Linked DNA regions of Homo sapiens: region 1 is linked to region 2. A link means that fine-mapping ties the variant in region 2 to the expression of a gene that starts in the linked region. Tissue or cell type: whole blood. Region 2 holds a variant in brackets; the other region holds the start of a gene. All regions are shown on one strand. Distances are between the middles of the regions.

What was found. PIP is the estimated chance that this variant, and not a neighbour inherited with it, causes the effect.
Region 1: it holds the start of SH3BP5-AS1, and the variant in region 2 is fine-mapped to the expression of SH3BP5-AS1 in whole blood (TOPMed, PIP above 0.99).

The regions. Positions count from the first base shown.
Region 1 is chr3:15,250,652-15,258,751 of GRCh38, reverse strand. SH3BP5-AS1 (SH3BP5 antisense RNA 1) reads right to left here and starts at 4,568. Exons shown (of 3, transcript NR_046084.1): 1 at 1,146-4,568; 2 at 1-118. It overlaps CAPN7 (calpain 7), which reads right to left. Exons shown (of 21, transcript NM_014296.3): 20 at 7,729-7,821; 21 at 5,836-7,636. The coding sequence ends at 7,492. It overlaps SH3BP5 (SH3 domain binding protein 5), which reads left to right. Exons shown (of 9, transcript NM_004844.5): 8 at 1,639-1,899; 9 at 2,449-4,399. The coding sequence ends at 2,666.
Region 2 is chr3:15,180,541-15,188,645 of GRCh38, reverse strand. It overlaps the pseudogene COL6A4P1. Among named protein-coding and RNA genes, the nearest start is that of CAPN7, 22 kb to the left of the region's middle. The variant T/A (reference allele first, on the strand shown) is at 3,769.

The DNA.
Region 1 (8,100 bases), 70 kb before region 2:
CCATCAGTGAAAGGTCTCAGAGTTGGGCAGGCCTGAGGGCTATTTCTGGTGGGTTCCCATGTTTTATGGAACACTGTGTTCATTAAGAAGGTACTAAGTGTTCCTCAAAGTCAGGATTCTGTGGTCAAATAAATTGGGAAAATGTTACACCTTCACTCCTCTTTGAGAGTCAAAGTATACATTTGAACATTCAAGGCTGAGAAGTCCTGCAGGAAAGAAGAGCTGTAATCAGATTTGATTCAAAGCTACCTTTACATCATTACTAAGGCATGATGTGGGCAAGGGCCTAACTTTGTATTTCAGTTTCTTCACCTGTAAAATGGGGAGTATGACGCTATCTACTGTATACTATCCGTTGTGTAGGGTGGTGGTTCAGCTTACATGAATCAACCCCTGACACCCAAGAAGCACTCAGCAAATGGTGGCTCTTACTGACATCTGACCATAGAGACCTCTTTTCCCAGGGCCTCCCCCTGGAAAACTGATAGAAGTTTGACTTGGTTTCTGTCATGCTCATCAAGAAAACCCACCCAACGCTGTCTTTGCATACTTCCTTTCTTTTCCTTACCTGTGCAATAATCCCTGTCGGCTCTTTCCCAAGCTCCTTCCTCAGGAGTTAATTCCTTCAACAAATATTTAAGTACTAGGTTCAAGGTAAAGGAAAAGGAAACTATCATTTGAACAACTACTATGTATGAGGTACTTTAATATATACATCATCTCAAACCCTGCATGGAGAGGATCATGAAGCTTACAGAGGTAAAGTAACTTGACCAAGGTCACACAGCAAGTAGTGGAGTTAGGGATTCAATTCAGGTCTGAGCCCATTTTCTGTCCCCAACATTACAGTATTTATCATTTATAAGAAACCTTTATGGAATGCTACAAGGCTGTTTTTAAAGAGAAAGGGGGGGAAAAATGGAGTAGGAAAGTTCTAATAAGGAGTGGGATTGTGGGCAGGCTGAGGGAAAACCGCTAAAGGCCAAAGAGGCTTTGAAACCATGGGAATAACATGTGTCTGGGCCTTGTTACTTTGGTCTACCAAATAATGTGGCTACAGAGCATTGTAAAGGATTTCTGTTCTTTTGCAGCAAATGGTGATGTGGGTAGCCTTTGAGTGTGTTCTTTATGAGATCAGAAGTTACCTGGAGATAACAAAGGTCCCAACAGATGTTCCATGCTGGCCTGTTTCTTCTAGCAGCTCTTGCTTCTATTGCCCTAAGAAAGAAGCCTGAGTCCAGCTGGCTTTGTTTGGGATATGTTACAGAGGACTAGAACCTCTTCCTGTGCACATGAGGATGTATTTGGGGGACTGAGGTGGAGTAAAGGTCCTAATTTGTGGCTGAATTAATCTTCCATTTTTAGGTGGTGTCTGGTGACACTGATTTCTTGGCAGGGTTATAAGGTTATTGGAAGGGCGCTTAATATCCATGGGATCCTGCTGCCAGCTGCTTCCCTTCCAGCTGCTTTAGAGGCTGGTCATTCAGGCTTGGGAAGTCACATTCCTTCATTAGGCACTCACAGAGGTAGAGACTCTTTAGTCCCCCATGCTGTGTCTAGCTGCCTGCCAGCAGCAAGCACTTGTGGTGTTTGAGGAGGTGACAGAACCCATGTGACTGGTGTTCTCTCTCAACTTAGTGGCCTCGGAGGCCTTTGAAGATGACAGCTGTAGCAACTTTGTGTCTGAAGATGACTCGGAAACCCAGTCCGTGTCCAGCTTTAGTTCAGGACCAACAAGCCCGTCTGAGATGCCTGACCAGTTCCCTGCGGTTGTGAGGCCTGGCAGCCTGGATCTGCCCAGCCCTGTGTCCCTGTCAGAGTTTGGGATGATGTTCCCAGTGTTGGGCCCTCGAAGTGAATGCAGCGGGGCCTCCTCCCCTGAATGTGAAGTAGAACGAGGTGAGTAGCAGCCTTCTCACCCCGTCCCAGATGCCACACTGCCTCTGTAGCCTGACTGTTGTGCCATTCCATACCTCTGCCAGGTCTCAGGGCCCCCATGCTGCATTACCAGGTCTCTGTGGTTGTGCTGTCAGTATTGATCACTGAGGTTGTTTCCAAGTGCTGTTCTGGGGGGGCTCCTGGCTCCACTCAGCTTCTATAAAGTAGAGCTTAGGTCCTATGTCTCACATCAGAACAGTCTCCTTGGCAAGCACATAGTAGAGAGGTTTGTTTCTCAGCAATAAAGTGAATATGGCAAATTTCATCTCTATAGCTAAGGAATATATAAAACATCACAAGGAATAAAAGCAGTAAATGATTATGTACTGAGAACCTCTCTGATAGGCACGGTAGGTAACAGTGGGACTTCTACAGGGCTGAGTTAGCTGACTGGTTTGAGCTCAAGTGACTTAGAATTGTCAATACTCACTTTTGATAATCTTTGTATTTCTATAGGAGACAGGGCAGAATTGTCAATACTCACTTTTGATAATCCTTGTATTTCTATAGGAGACAGGGCAGAAGGGGCAGAGAATAAAACAAGTGACAAAGCCAACAACAACCGGGGCCTCAGCAGTAGCAGTGGCAGTGGTGGCAGCAGTAAGAGCCAAAGCAGCACCTCCCCTGAGGGCCAGGCCTTGGAGAACCGGATGAAGCAGCTCTCCCTACAGTGCTCAAAGGGAAGAGATGGAATTATTGCTGACATAAAAATGGTGCAGATTGGCTGATTCATCCTGGGCCCTGGCCGATGTGCATATCAACATTTATACATGGAACTGGAGAACATTGTGCCAATAATCATTTAATATATGCCAAATCTTACACGTCTACTCTAAACTGCTCTAATGAAGTTTCAGTGACCTTGAGGGCTAAAGATTGTTCTTCTGGGTAAGAGCTCTTGGGCTGGTTTTTCAGAGCAGAGTTCTTGTTGTGGGTAGACTGTGACTAGGTTCACAGCCTTTGTGGAACATTCCGTATAACGGCATTGTGGAAGCAATAACTAGTTCCTATGAAAGAACCAGAGCTGGGAAGATGGCTGGGAAGCCAGGCCAAAGTGGGGGCAACAGCTTGCTTCTCTTTCTCTTCTCACCCTCAGTTTGTATGGGAAAATGGAGATGTCCTCTCCACTTTATCCCACGATATCTAAATGAAAAAGAAAGAAAACCCACACACAAAGCAAAAACTCAAGTATTAAGAGCACATATTTTTGACCCAGTGGAGGCTTAAAAAAAAAAAAATCCAAGAACACAATTCATTTTCACCACCTCTGGTGTTCAGAGGGGGCTTTTAAAAAAGCGTGTATGCTGGGATACCCATTAAAACCATTTTCTAGAAGGCTACCATGAGCTGCACTTTTTGGGGTGGGAAAGGTGAATGCCAGTGGGGATGCGGGGGGATGAGGGTAGGAGGGACTTATAGAAGGGGATTTGTGGCTGTGGGGGAGAAGGTTCTACAGCATAAGCCTTATCCTGCCAGCCAAGGGGATTTATTCTAAGAGAAGTGCATGTGAAGAATGGTTGCCACTGTTATTAGATTGACAAGATGTTAATTTCTCTGTAGGTTGTAACTTTAAAAATAAATGAAATTATTTAAGGGTTATGCTGCACTAGTATTCCTTAGAGGAAACAGTTCTTTAAAGTTAGGAAAGGGAGTAGGCAGGCATGTGTTGGCAAAGGCTGTTAATAGTAGTTAAGTGTTAAGACTGCTTTTCTTTAACGTTTTCATGGTAATGCATATTTAGAGCACTGTATTTTTGTCTTGTTAAGAAAATTTAGCATTTCTAAAAGAAAAAAGCAACCCTCTTTCAAACTGTTAATTCTGTCACAGCCTGTATATTTTAGTCATTTGTAAATCTCTTCATACAATAGTGACTTCTTTTTTGACTGATACAGTATCTTAATTACAAGGTTATTTTGTACTTGTCTTAATACACTAAGTGTAATAAAAACGGCTTGAGAAAAGTTTCTCCTTTCTGTGACTTCAAATAAGAACTCCCAGTATTGCCTAAATCTTCTAGGCAACCCTTTTTCCATAAGGAAGAGCATGGAGTGCTGTGGTCACCAGTAATCATTTTCAATTAATTAAGGTCATGAACAGTAATAATTTAAGCCTTGTTTACCAAGGTTTGAATTCTACTTTTGCTGTTGCTAAAGCTGTGGGCAATGAGGAGACACAGTGGCAGATAAAGACGAGGTGGTGACGCTGGAGGAGTGGGCCTCGGCTGCACACTGCAGTCTCGAAGCTTAAGTGTTGCTGTCAGTCAGTTCTCATCCCCAGAGAATTATTTAATTAATTAACTGGGGGGGGTACACTGGGGCATTAGACTTTTAAAAGCTCCCCGAGGGAATTCAAATGTGCATTCAGAGTTGAGAATCAGATGGATTCTTTCTTTTGTGGAAATGTTTTATAATATTGGACTCTTAATCCGCATTTCATTATTAAAGCATGCTGTGGAGAAAAAGTTCTTGGTTGGCCAATCATGAGGTTTAAGTTTCAGAAATAACCCTTTGCAGTATCAAACAAGTGTTTTACCTAGTAGTTAATAAATATTTCATCTAGGAAAGTTCATAGAAGTCCCTTGTGCTATTTAAGAACATTAAACAGCCGGCTGGGCCCAAGGGCTCATGCCTGTAATCCCAGCACTTTGGGAGGCCAAGGCTGGTGGATCACTTGAGCCCAGGAGTTCGAGACCAGCCTGGGCAACATAGTGAAACCCAGTCTTTACCAAAAATACAAAAATTGGCCAGTCTTGTAATTTGGGTCTCAAGCAAGAACACTTAACAGCATACCTGAATTTGACTAGTGACCTTCAGGGTTCATTCAGTTCTCATAAAATCTCCTTACACCCTTTTACCTGTAGTAAAGACACTGAGACTTGCTTGACTTACCATTAGCAAAAACTTCCCTGCAATTGAGGCAATTCTTTTTCCTCCTAGAAGAAACACCATCTGGAAAATAGCCCAAGCTAGGATAAAGTTTTTACAGCAGAGTCAAGTTATACAGTCTAATAACTAGAAATTTCTAGGTACTTCTCGCAGAGAATGAAAGTGGGAAGGAGTTTTCTAACACTGGGGCTTTCTTTCCCTTGTCTTTACAAAAGACAAAGCCTAGGCAGTCAGTCAGTAGCACTAGAGTATTCCTTATGGGCATTAAGAATTTCTCTTGTTTCCTGCCTCAATCCCCCTTTCCCATCAGCCTACCACTTGCTTGTCTCCTACACCAGAAAAGGATGCAGACCACCTTTTGACCAGGGCTCCCTTCTCACACTATCACCTAGTCAAATTTCTAGTTTTACGTAGTCTGCCCCTACTGCTGTCACTGTGGCCTCTTTATCTCCACCACATCTGACATTTAATTATACTCTTCTGGGAATTCTGTTCACTGGGCTTCTTAATCCTCCCCCAACCCTCGTTTTCTTGTATCTCCTGTTAGTCTATGTATTTTTTTCTAAATTAGAAATACTTTCTAAAAAACTTCCCCCAAATCAGTTCTTAACCATCTTTAGTTCACGTGACTCTTGACTTTTTGGGTGATCTCACTTACTATACCACGTTGATTCCAGATCTGGATTTTCTGGGCAATTTAATGTGTCAAAACTTACCTTTCACTGAAGCTATGAGCATCTGTCCATGTGCTGAATTAGAAACTTGAGTCATCCTCTCTAACAATTCAACTGGTCTGTCTGTTATTTAGAACCTCCAAAAGGCCTGGATTGTTTTTCCTCCCTCTACAATGGGTCTAGATCTTGTCCCTCCCTCGACTAGACGGCCGTGACTGTGGGTGCCATTAGACACACACAGCAGCTCAATCAGGGCTCAGGGAAGAAGGCTTGTGAACCCTGGGCAAAATCTTTTAATCTCTTAGGCTTATTTCCTCAATTGTAAGAAGTACAAATAATAGTATCTATACTTTATTCAGCTATTGGGAAGATTAAAAAGAAAAATATACACATTGGGTACATAGTAAACACTCAATGGTCAGTAACCTGTCTTTTGAAGCTTTACCTTCAAGGTCCAAGTTAAAGTATCAATTCTTCAAATACAATTTTTTATATTGGTCCAGCCAAAATTAATCTTTCCCTTATTCATACACTGGTGGCATGTTTTTAGAGCTCTATTATAGAAATCAGTGCCTTTAAGTTGTTCATATATAGGTCTCTTCTAATAAATTTGATGGCAGGGATTAGGTTTTTAGTTTGCATCCTGTACAAGATCTTTACCACAACAGGTTCAAATCATGTGTTCATAATATAGTTCTTATGTTCTGGATTTTTTCTTTTTAAAAAGTAACAGAAAACTTGTTAAATTTGTCCACCTAAAATTAATAGGCTAAAACTGAAAGCATGAAGTATTTACCAAAGTGAAATCTCATTAGTGTAATAATCTACCACTACTCTGTTAAAGAACAGATTTTTGTTGAAGTATATATTTTCATGCAAATAATCTGTTCTCATTTACATGAAACACGACAGATGAAATCTTTCAATAAATCTAACTTAAACTATGCAATATCCGTAAGTATAAACATTTTATTTCAATTTAAGGTAGTAGCAATACAAAATAAGTTTTGATAATTATAAAGTAGAGACAATGAAAAATCCCACCCTATTTTTAGAATTTTAAAATATTGAGCATCATTCTGTCCTGATGGGTTTTTATGTAAAGTGGGAATTTACATGACACCAGTATCTTGGCAATTCACTTTTTTTGAATGCTACATATCCCAATCACCATATATTAAATTCTCTATTTTCTTCAAAGTGCTATTGCCACAAGAGACTGAACGATACAGCAATTTAAAAAAAGACCACACAAACTAAATTGTAATGTCTTCAATATCTCAATTACTGTTTTTTAAAAATAAAAACTGCAGTAGTGAATTTCTTTAAGTTCTTGCTACATGATTGAATGGGAGATAACCTCAACAATTTTCATTCTTAGGCATGAGCATCTTCATGCTAAGGTAGTCTATACTTAAAAGCTTTATTCTTTCATAACACCTGGGCAACAAATATTTTAAAATCATAAATAATGCAAAATTAAAATCAGTTATGGTGGCACAATTCATTTGGTAACTAGTTGCCCAAGATGTATAGTAGAATCAAGCAGGTTTAACTTCCACATGCTCTGCAAAAAAGGGAAACAATGGAAATATTTCGGTATATTAATCTAGCCCACTATTCCACTCAAGGAATCTATATCCTTTCTTTTTCTCATCTGGTCTCAGTTCCTTTATCCTCTTAGCAAAGGCATCTCACAGTGATGACTGAGTCTAATTTTAATCATATGCACTTTTTATACAAAATGGCCCCTAAAATGCAAGCCAACTCTATATACACAAAACCATGTAAACGGTACCTCTAGGTGATTTAGGTAATTCTGACTATATACAGTTCTTACCAAACACCCTGACAAGCACCAGATTCCACTGTAACACGTTTTTAGAGATTTAATTCCATTCTGATTGTTCTGCTTACTGTCCTGAAGATTTGCGTCCTTATTTGAAGAACTGATGTTTGGTAAGTATAAAAGCCAGTAACTTGAGATTTCTCCATCACTGAAGTTGTGTGATCTTGATGGGGATAATACTATTAAAGTCCAAGAAAAAAGGTCCTTCTTGTTTAGGCAAAAAGGTACTAGGAATGATATTGAAGATCCCAGAAGGTATATTTTCTAATTCCAGGTAGCAAAACCCACACCTATATTTAGAGAAAATGAGAATAAGGTTTATAGAAGATGATGCCACAAAAAGTAAAGTATAAAATAGATACAATAAAAATGCCAACATTACCTATAGTCACCACTAGATTTCCTCAGAAAGCCATGGGGACCAGGATCTCCTAGAGTAGAAACTGTTACAACCTCAAATCCAACGCTATATTGCCTAGCATTTAAAATGAACAGAATTACTGTATTAATATATATTCTCAAACGTGATTTAAAATAACTTTATCTGAAGTGCAGATGTCATACTAAGTTTATGTTTCTGAAGTTTCAGTAGAAACATACACACTCTATTTTTGATCATAACACACCATTTATATTTTTCAGTTGAAGCCTTAAAGATTAACACCAGATTAAACTTACTTTAAGAGAGACTGTATTTTTACCATGGGCTCCCCGGGAAATATTTTATTTTTTTTGAGACAGAGTCTCACTCTGC
Region 2 (8,105 bases):
GTTAGCTGGTTATTTTGCTTGTTAGTTGATGCAGTTTCTTCCTAGTCTCGATGGTCTTTACATTTTGGCATGATTTTGCAGTGGCTGGTACCGGTTGTTCCTTTCCATGTTTAGTGCTTCCTTCAGGAGCTCTTGTAAGGCAGGCCTGGTGGTGACAAAATCTCTCAGCATTTGCTTGTCTGTAAAGGATTTTATTTCTCCTTCACTTATGAAGCTTAGTTTGGCTGGATATGAAATTCTGGGTTGAAAATTCTTTTCTTTAAGAATGTTGAATATTGGCCCCCACTCTCTTCTGGCTTGTAGGGTTTCTGCTGAGAGATCCGCTGTTAGTCTGATGGGCTTCCCTTTGAGGGTAACCCGACCTTTCTCTCTGGCTGCCCTTAACATTTTTTCCTTCATTTCAACTTTGGTGAATCTGACAATTATGTGTCTTGGAGTTGCTCTTCTCGAGGAGTATCTTTGTGGCGTTCTCTGTATTTCCTGAATCTGAAGGTTGGCCTGCCTTGCTAGATTGGGGAAGTTCTCCTGGATGATATCCTGCAAAGTGTTTTCCAACTTGGTTCCATTCTCCCCATCACTTTCAGGTACACCAATCAGACGTAGATTTGGTCTTTTCACATAGTCCCATATTTCTTGGAGGCTTTGCTCATTTCTTTTTATTCTTTTTTCTCTAGACTTCCCTTCTCACTTCATTTCATTCATTTCATCTTCCATCGCTGATACCCTTTCTTCCAGTTGATCGCATCGGCTCCTGAGGCTTCTGCATTCTTCACGTAGTTCTCGAGCCTTGGTTTTCAGCTCCATCAGCTCCTTTAAGCACTTCTCTGTATTGGTTATTCTAGTTATACATTCTTCTAAATTTTTTTCAAAGTTTTCAACTTCTTTGCCTTTGGTTTGAATGTTCTCCCGTAGCTCAGAGTAATTTGATCGTCTGAAGCCTTCTTCTCTCAGCTCGTCAAAGTCATTCTCCATCCAGCTTTGTTCCGTTGCTGGTGAGGAACTGCATTCCTTTGGAGGAGGAGAGGCGCTCTGCTTTTTAGAGTTTCCAGTTATTCTGTTCTGTTTTTTCCCCATCTTTGTGGTTTTATCTACTTTTGGTCTTTGATGATGGTGATGTACAGATGGGTTTTTGGTGTGGATGTCCTTTCTGTTTGTTAGTTTTCCTTCTAACAGACAGGACCCTCAGCTGCAGGTCTGTTGGAGTACCCGACCGTGTGAGGTGTCAGTCTGCCCCTGCTGGGGAGTGCCTCCCAGTTAGGCTGCTCGGGGGTCAGGGGTCAGGGACCCACTTGAGGAGGCAGTCTGCCCGTTCTCAGATCTCCAGCTGCGTGCTAGGAGAACCACTGCTCTCTTCAAAGCTGTCAGACAGGGACATTTAAGTCTGCAGAGGTTACTGCTGTCTTTTTGTTTGTCTGTGCCCTGCCCCCAGAGGTGGAGCCTACAGAGGCAGGCAGGCCTCCTTGAGCTGTGGTGGGCTCCACCCAGTTCGAGCTTTCCGGCTGCTTTGTTTACCTAAGCAAGCCTGGGCAATGGCGGGCGCCCCTCCCCCAGCCTCGCTGCCGCCTTGCAGTTTGATCTCAGACTGCTGTGCTAGCAATCAGCGAGACTCCGTGGGCGTAGGACCCTCCGAGCCAGGTGCGGGATATAATCTCGTGGTGCGCCGTTTTTTAAGCCCGTCGGAAAAGCGCAGTATTCGGGTGGGAGTGACCCGATTTTCCAGGTGCCGTCCGTCACCCCTTTCTTTGACTCAGAAAAGGAACTCCCTGACCCCTTGCGCTTCCCAAGTGAGGCAATGCCTCGCCCTGCTTGGGCTCACGCATGGTGCGCACACCCACTGACCTGCGCCCACTGTCTGACACTCCTAGTGAGATAAACCCGGTACCTCAGATGGAAATGCAGAAATCACCCATCTTCTGCGTCGCTCACGCTGGGAGCTGTAGACCGGGGCTGTTCCTATTCGGCCATCTTGGCTCCTCCCTCCGTAAGTTGCATTTTTTTAGGCATTTATCCATTTCCTCTAGGTTATCCAATTTGTTGCCATATAATTATTCATAATAGTTCTTTTTCATTTTTTTCATTTCTGAAGCATCTCTTGTAATGTCACCACTTTCATTTCTCATTTTATTTATTTGGTCTTTTCTCTTATTTTCTTAGTGTAGTGTTCCAAAATTTTAAGTACCTCACAAATTAATTATGTACCAATCTACTAATTTCCACAGCTGATGGGAGTATCATAACCATCAACAGCCATTTATTGCTTTGCACAGAGCTCCGCTGAACTCTGGCATTTTAATCCTTACCCTTCTCTGGAGGAAAGCTCCAAGATTCTGCATCTTGTTATTTTTTTCTGAGACTACTGACACATTAATTGTCATTGAAATGTTTGACATAGCCTCCCTTAAATATTTTACAACAAAGTTATAGATTTATCTGAGCCATTGTAAGATTTGTGAATGAGCACAGAAAACAAATGTTAATGTTTATGCAATAAATTAAGGCTAAACTTTAGTTTTTTATTTTTATTTTTTTTACTGTCAAACATGTTATGTAGAGTTTAACGTGAAGTGTACAGAAGAATCTATTCACGTTTCTCAATTGTTTGCCTTCTGGAGCTTCCTGCCCAGATGTGGAACACTGTAAGACTATCTCATTAGAAAGCCAAAAATCCAGTTATTGTAATAACCCTGTTAAAGTGAACAGAAAGAAAAGAGAGAGCACAGCTCTGGATTTCAGAGAATAAATAGAAAGAAAATGGAAAAAATGTGTTAAATTAATTTTGCATATTTGCATTGAGTATTTCATCCAAATATTTTGAAGCTTCTGCTTACCTCAGTAATTTAAAAAACATTTTAAAATCAATAATCTCTTCTCTTTTCTCACTTACTTGAAAATAGACACTTGATTTTCTCCATAGGGAATTAAAGAGGCTATTGAAAGCAAGTGGGGCAGACACTCGCTTGAGCAGGAACCACTGCATGCTAAATGCATGGGAGACTAGTTTCTTTTCTTTTCCTTTTCTTTTCTTTTCTTTTCTTTTCTTTTCCTTTCCTTTCTTTCTCTCTCTCTTTCTCTCTTTCTCCCTTCCCCTTCCCCTTCCCCTTCCCTTCCCTCTCTGTCACCCAGGCTGGAGTGCAGTGGCATGATCATGGCTTGTTGCAGCCTCGACTTCTGGACTCAGTCAATTCTCCCACCTTTGCCTCCTGAGAAGCTGGGACAACAGGCACACACCACCACACCAGGCTAATTTTTATTTTTATTTTTGTAGAGACAGGGTCTCTTTATTTTTCCCAGGCTGGTTTCCAGCTCCTGGGCTCAGGCACTCCTCCTGCCTTGGTCTCCCAAAGTGCTAGGATTATAGTCATGAGCCACTATGCCCGGCCTAAAGAATGGTTTTTGAAATATGGTTCCTCGGACCAGCTCAGCAGGCAGATTCTAAGGGTTCACACTACACTTACAAAATCAGAAACTCTGGAGGTAGGGGCCAACAAACTGGGCTTTAACAGGTCCTCTGGGTAACTCTGATGCAATGCTGAAGTTTAAGAGTCACTGGCATAGGACATTAGAGATGGAATCTTCGTATTTTATAGTTGAGCATTCCACAGAGGAAGAACAAAAACCTTGAAGGAGACTGGTATATAAAGCATTGCTACTTTAATTAAATGAAGTTAAGGAGGTTTGTTTTTGAAGACTGAGGAATTCTGCTCGGGTCCCCTCTTCTATCCCACCTTTTAAGTTCAGTCATTTCAGAAAAGATCTCTATGAGACTTA[T/A]CAAGCCTTAAGAGCTTGGACAGCACAGGTGCATGAGCTCTAATGAAGGCCTAACCACATCCCCAGCACTCCTAAACCTGAGCTCCTGAATCTGTGGGCAGGCTGTGTTTGGAGTGTCTAGTACCTCTCCAGTGTCCTTGCATGTACATGCTGTTCTTCTTCCTGGAACTCCCTTTCTTCACATTCTCACTTGCAAATTTCTACTCATCCTTCAAGTCTTCACTCTGGAATCATCTGCTCTGTAAACTCTTCACCCAGGTGAAGACAGGTGCTCACACACTGTGTTCCTCAGCACTTTGTATAGCTTTCTATTTTATTTTGCTTATCCCACAATATTACAATTTATCCATCTCTCTCTCCACTAGTTCTCTGAGAAAAAGAATGGTTTCTTTTAGTCTGTTATTTCTAGGGCCTGAAGTTTAGTCTGGCAAACAATAAACACTCAGTAAAAAGTTGCAAATGTATTGCAATGCTTTATTCCTCTCTCTATGAATCATTATAATTTTGCCAAGCATTTGAGAGTAAGTTGCTGATAGTAAGGTCCTTTGCTCCACAATGCATCAGTGTGTATTTTTAAATAAGAAGGCCATTCTCTTACATGACTACAACACAATAATCAAAGTTATTAAATTTAACATTGATACCGTATTTTCTTTTTTTGAGACAGGGTCTCACTCTGTTGCTCAGGCTGGAGTGCAGTGGCACGATTACTGCAGCCTCAACCTCCTGGGCTCAAGCGATTCTCTCACCTCAGCCTCCCGAGTAGCTGGGACTACAGGCGTGCACCATCATGGCTAGCTAATATTTTTTGTATTTTTTTGTAGAAACCGGGTTTCACCATGACCTTGATACAGTATTATTATATAATATTCTGTCCATATTAACATTTTGTCTACTGTCTCATTCAATGGCTTTTATAGCATTTTTCCCCCCAAACCAGGATCATGAATTGCCTTTATATGTTATGTCTCTTTGGACTCCTATAATCTGAATCAATTCCTTTGCTTTGTCTTTCATGATATGAATATTTTTGAGACGCACAGGCCAGTTATTTTTTAGACTGTCCTCAAGTTTTGGTTTATGTGATTGTTTTCTCGTTATCAGATTTAGGTCATGGATTTTAAGGAGAAATACTATATAAGTGATGTTAAGTTTTCTCATGCATAATATCAGGAGGTGATGATGTTGGTTTATCCTGTTATTATTGATGTAATTGATCACTTGGTTAAGTCATGTCCATCAGGCTTCTCCATCGTAATGGTACTTTTTTGCCCTTTGTAATTTCTAAGTAATTTTTCAGAAGATACTTTGAAAATATATTCATATTCTGTTGTGTAACAAACTTTTACCCAGTGGTTTTAGCAATCTCTGATGATTCTTCCTGAGTCAATTGTTACTATGGTAGTTGCAAAGTAATTTTTAAACTGAATAAATGAATCTAAAAAATAGACGGTTTTAGTTGGTTAACTATTTGAGCAATATATTTTTGAGAGAAATCTTTTCTATTGCAAAACTATTAAAGTTATTTGCAGAAAGAATCAGTATTCTATGCTATCCCTATCTAATTCCATTTCATTTAATGGCTTTATTTCTTGCCTCCATGAGGAGTCCCATGTGTTCAGATGCAAAATCTCTTCAGCAGCTTAAGATATAAACATCTTAATGAAATAGTACATATCACGTAGATATTAAATCTCTAATACATAGATACTTAACTCTTCATTGATATAACACAGACTTGCCCAGCTGTAAAATGTTTACAACCGTTTATAAATGTTTATCATTTTGACTTTCCCACTAGAGTTTCATAAACAGCTCTAGTGCTTTATTTACAATTAGCTAAAAATGCTCATTTTTTATGACTAATCGCATGAATAGTAATAATTGGGACATAATGGAAAATGAAAATGTAGACATAATATCTATATTTAGGTTTTATACAGTAAAACCTTTACTTAAAGGTTTTGTTTTTTCCAATAACTTTATTAACCCAAGTGTTTCAAAATTGGAAGTGTAATATTTTATTGCAATGATGATGATGAGGATCATGTTGATGATCCATTAATTTATTTTGGATCATTTTTCACACCTTCAGACTCTCAAGCTCTTTACCCTCATACAGTTATTAATTCACTAGGGCAATCTATTCTTTAAGATTCATGCATTTTTTTTTTTACCCTTAGGTAAAAGTTTATTGAAGGATAGGATATCTAAAGTCTTAAAGTACCTTTCCTTTAGTTACTTATACACCTCCGGGAGGAGGCACTAGTGGGAAGTTATGTAGAAACTGAGGAACAGAGAAATCTAATTATAGCACATCTATTTCCTGGAAAAACACTGGACCAATTCCCTAGGGCATGTTTGTAATACAGTGGTCAATACAGTAGTTGTCTCAAATCAGAGCTAAGACCTCTAGACTCATCACATAAAACCTGAAAGTTGAAACAGCTTGCTCAAGTCTGCAGAGCAAATAGCCAAGCTCAAACCAGAATCAAGGCCTATGGGCTTCCTTTAAAGTCAAGACTTCTCCCAGTATTTTCTGTTGGTGTAAATAATAAAGTAAATAAAATAAATATGGTTATCTCAAATTTTTGAATCCCTCTTAAGGAGTAAGTTGAGCATGAACAGTCAAGATGTGTTTTTAGGGAGTGGGGGGTGGTTTTCACTTAACACTTTCTGGAAAGAGAAACGCAGCTGTTGGGTGTCTGCTATTCCTGGGTGTTGTGATGATCACTTCCACACAATATTCTATTTAAAGAACCCAAGACTAGGAAGTGATTTAGACATGCTAGAGATTCTTGCTTAAACTCTTTGGTTTGTTTAAGAATGTGCTTTAACTATTCACAATGGCAAAGACATGGAAGAATTCTTTTGAATTCTTTTGAATTACATATTGGGGCTCCAAGAAGGTTTATTTTATTTAACAAACACCTAAAGAGTGCCTTCTGTGTGCCAGGAATGGGTAAAGTGTTTTATAATAATGAACTCAATCCTGATAACACTATAAGGTAGGTGCTATTATTGCCCCTATTTTACAAATGGGGAAACCAAGGCAGAGAAAAGTGAAGCAATTTGCCTAAGATCCACTATTAGATAGTGGATCGAAGACTCAAGCCCAGGCAGTCTATCTCCAAGAGTCCTTGCTTTTTAACCACATACATTCTGCTGAAGGCAGCTGTGAGATTGGCTGGCCAAGAATATAAAGATGAGGTATTCCCTGTTCCACTTGGAACCTCTCATTCAATGGGATTATTATGTTCTTATTTTTAAACAAATGGACTTTCTTAGAGTAAAAAAAATAGAAATGGAATTGAGAGTAGACAATTTCCATGGACCCCTTTGGAAATGGATCTAAGCTTTGGGGAGGGAGGTCTGATGTTCTGCTTTTTTTTTTTTTTGAGAATGTATGAGGTATTTTCAGACTAGGCTTATTTGACCAGGCAGATGTGCTCCTGAGATACTTGAATATTTTAGCATACCACAACTGTTTATCAGGTTATTCCACTCTTGCATAAATATACAAACAAAATCATTCAGAAATGTTTATGACCCACCAAATGAATGCAGTGTGTGAAATGGAAGTTCTATGCCATGTCCTGTATGCTTTCTCCTTTTATAGCCACATCTGGACAACTTTAAATAGTGAAGTCTGAGGTGTACACTCTGGGTGTTTACAAAATTCTTCCCGAGTTGGATCAGCAAGACCATTTTCCTTGCACAATTGAAACAATGTGGGAACATTTCCCTCTTTATTTTGATAAAGCCTATGTTGATGTGGGGAAAGACATCCTTATGCTTTAAAAAAATCAACTTCATGAGGCATAATTTATAGTCAATGTGTTGGACACATTTTAAGTGCATGAAGGCACATTTTTTAATTACAAGGTTTCTTCTTTTCTCTAGGTCCACATCTAGAATGGAGACTTGGAAGATATTTTGGGGGATCATCCTCCTTGAAGCTGGTTTTGGCTTCAAGTCACAGAGGATTGGTAATACCTGGGTTTCTTTAAGCTGAAAACCATCTAGTGGTAGTGACCATCTTAAAAGGAAATATTACAGAAGCTTCAGAATTAATAAGAGGCAATCGATTCATTGAAGGAGAATTTAGTCAGAATCTGGAAGCTTATAGTGAATGGTGGGCACTTGTTTTTTCAGTACTTAACCCCAAATGACAAAAAAATAGATATTAAAAACTTCCATACTCTGAAATGTATTACTAGGTTCTCAAACGCTTTTGTAAACAGGAGTCTGTTCTGCATTCTGCCTTTTCTCTTCGGCAGAGCTGTTCTGAGGAGTAATTATCATCACAAGACGGATCGCTTCACTGAGTGCTAGTG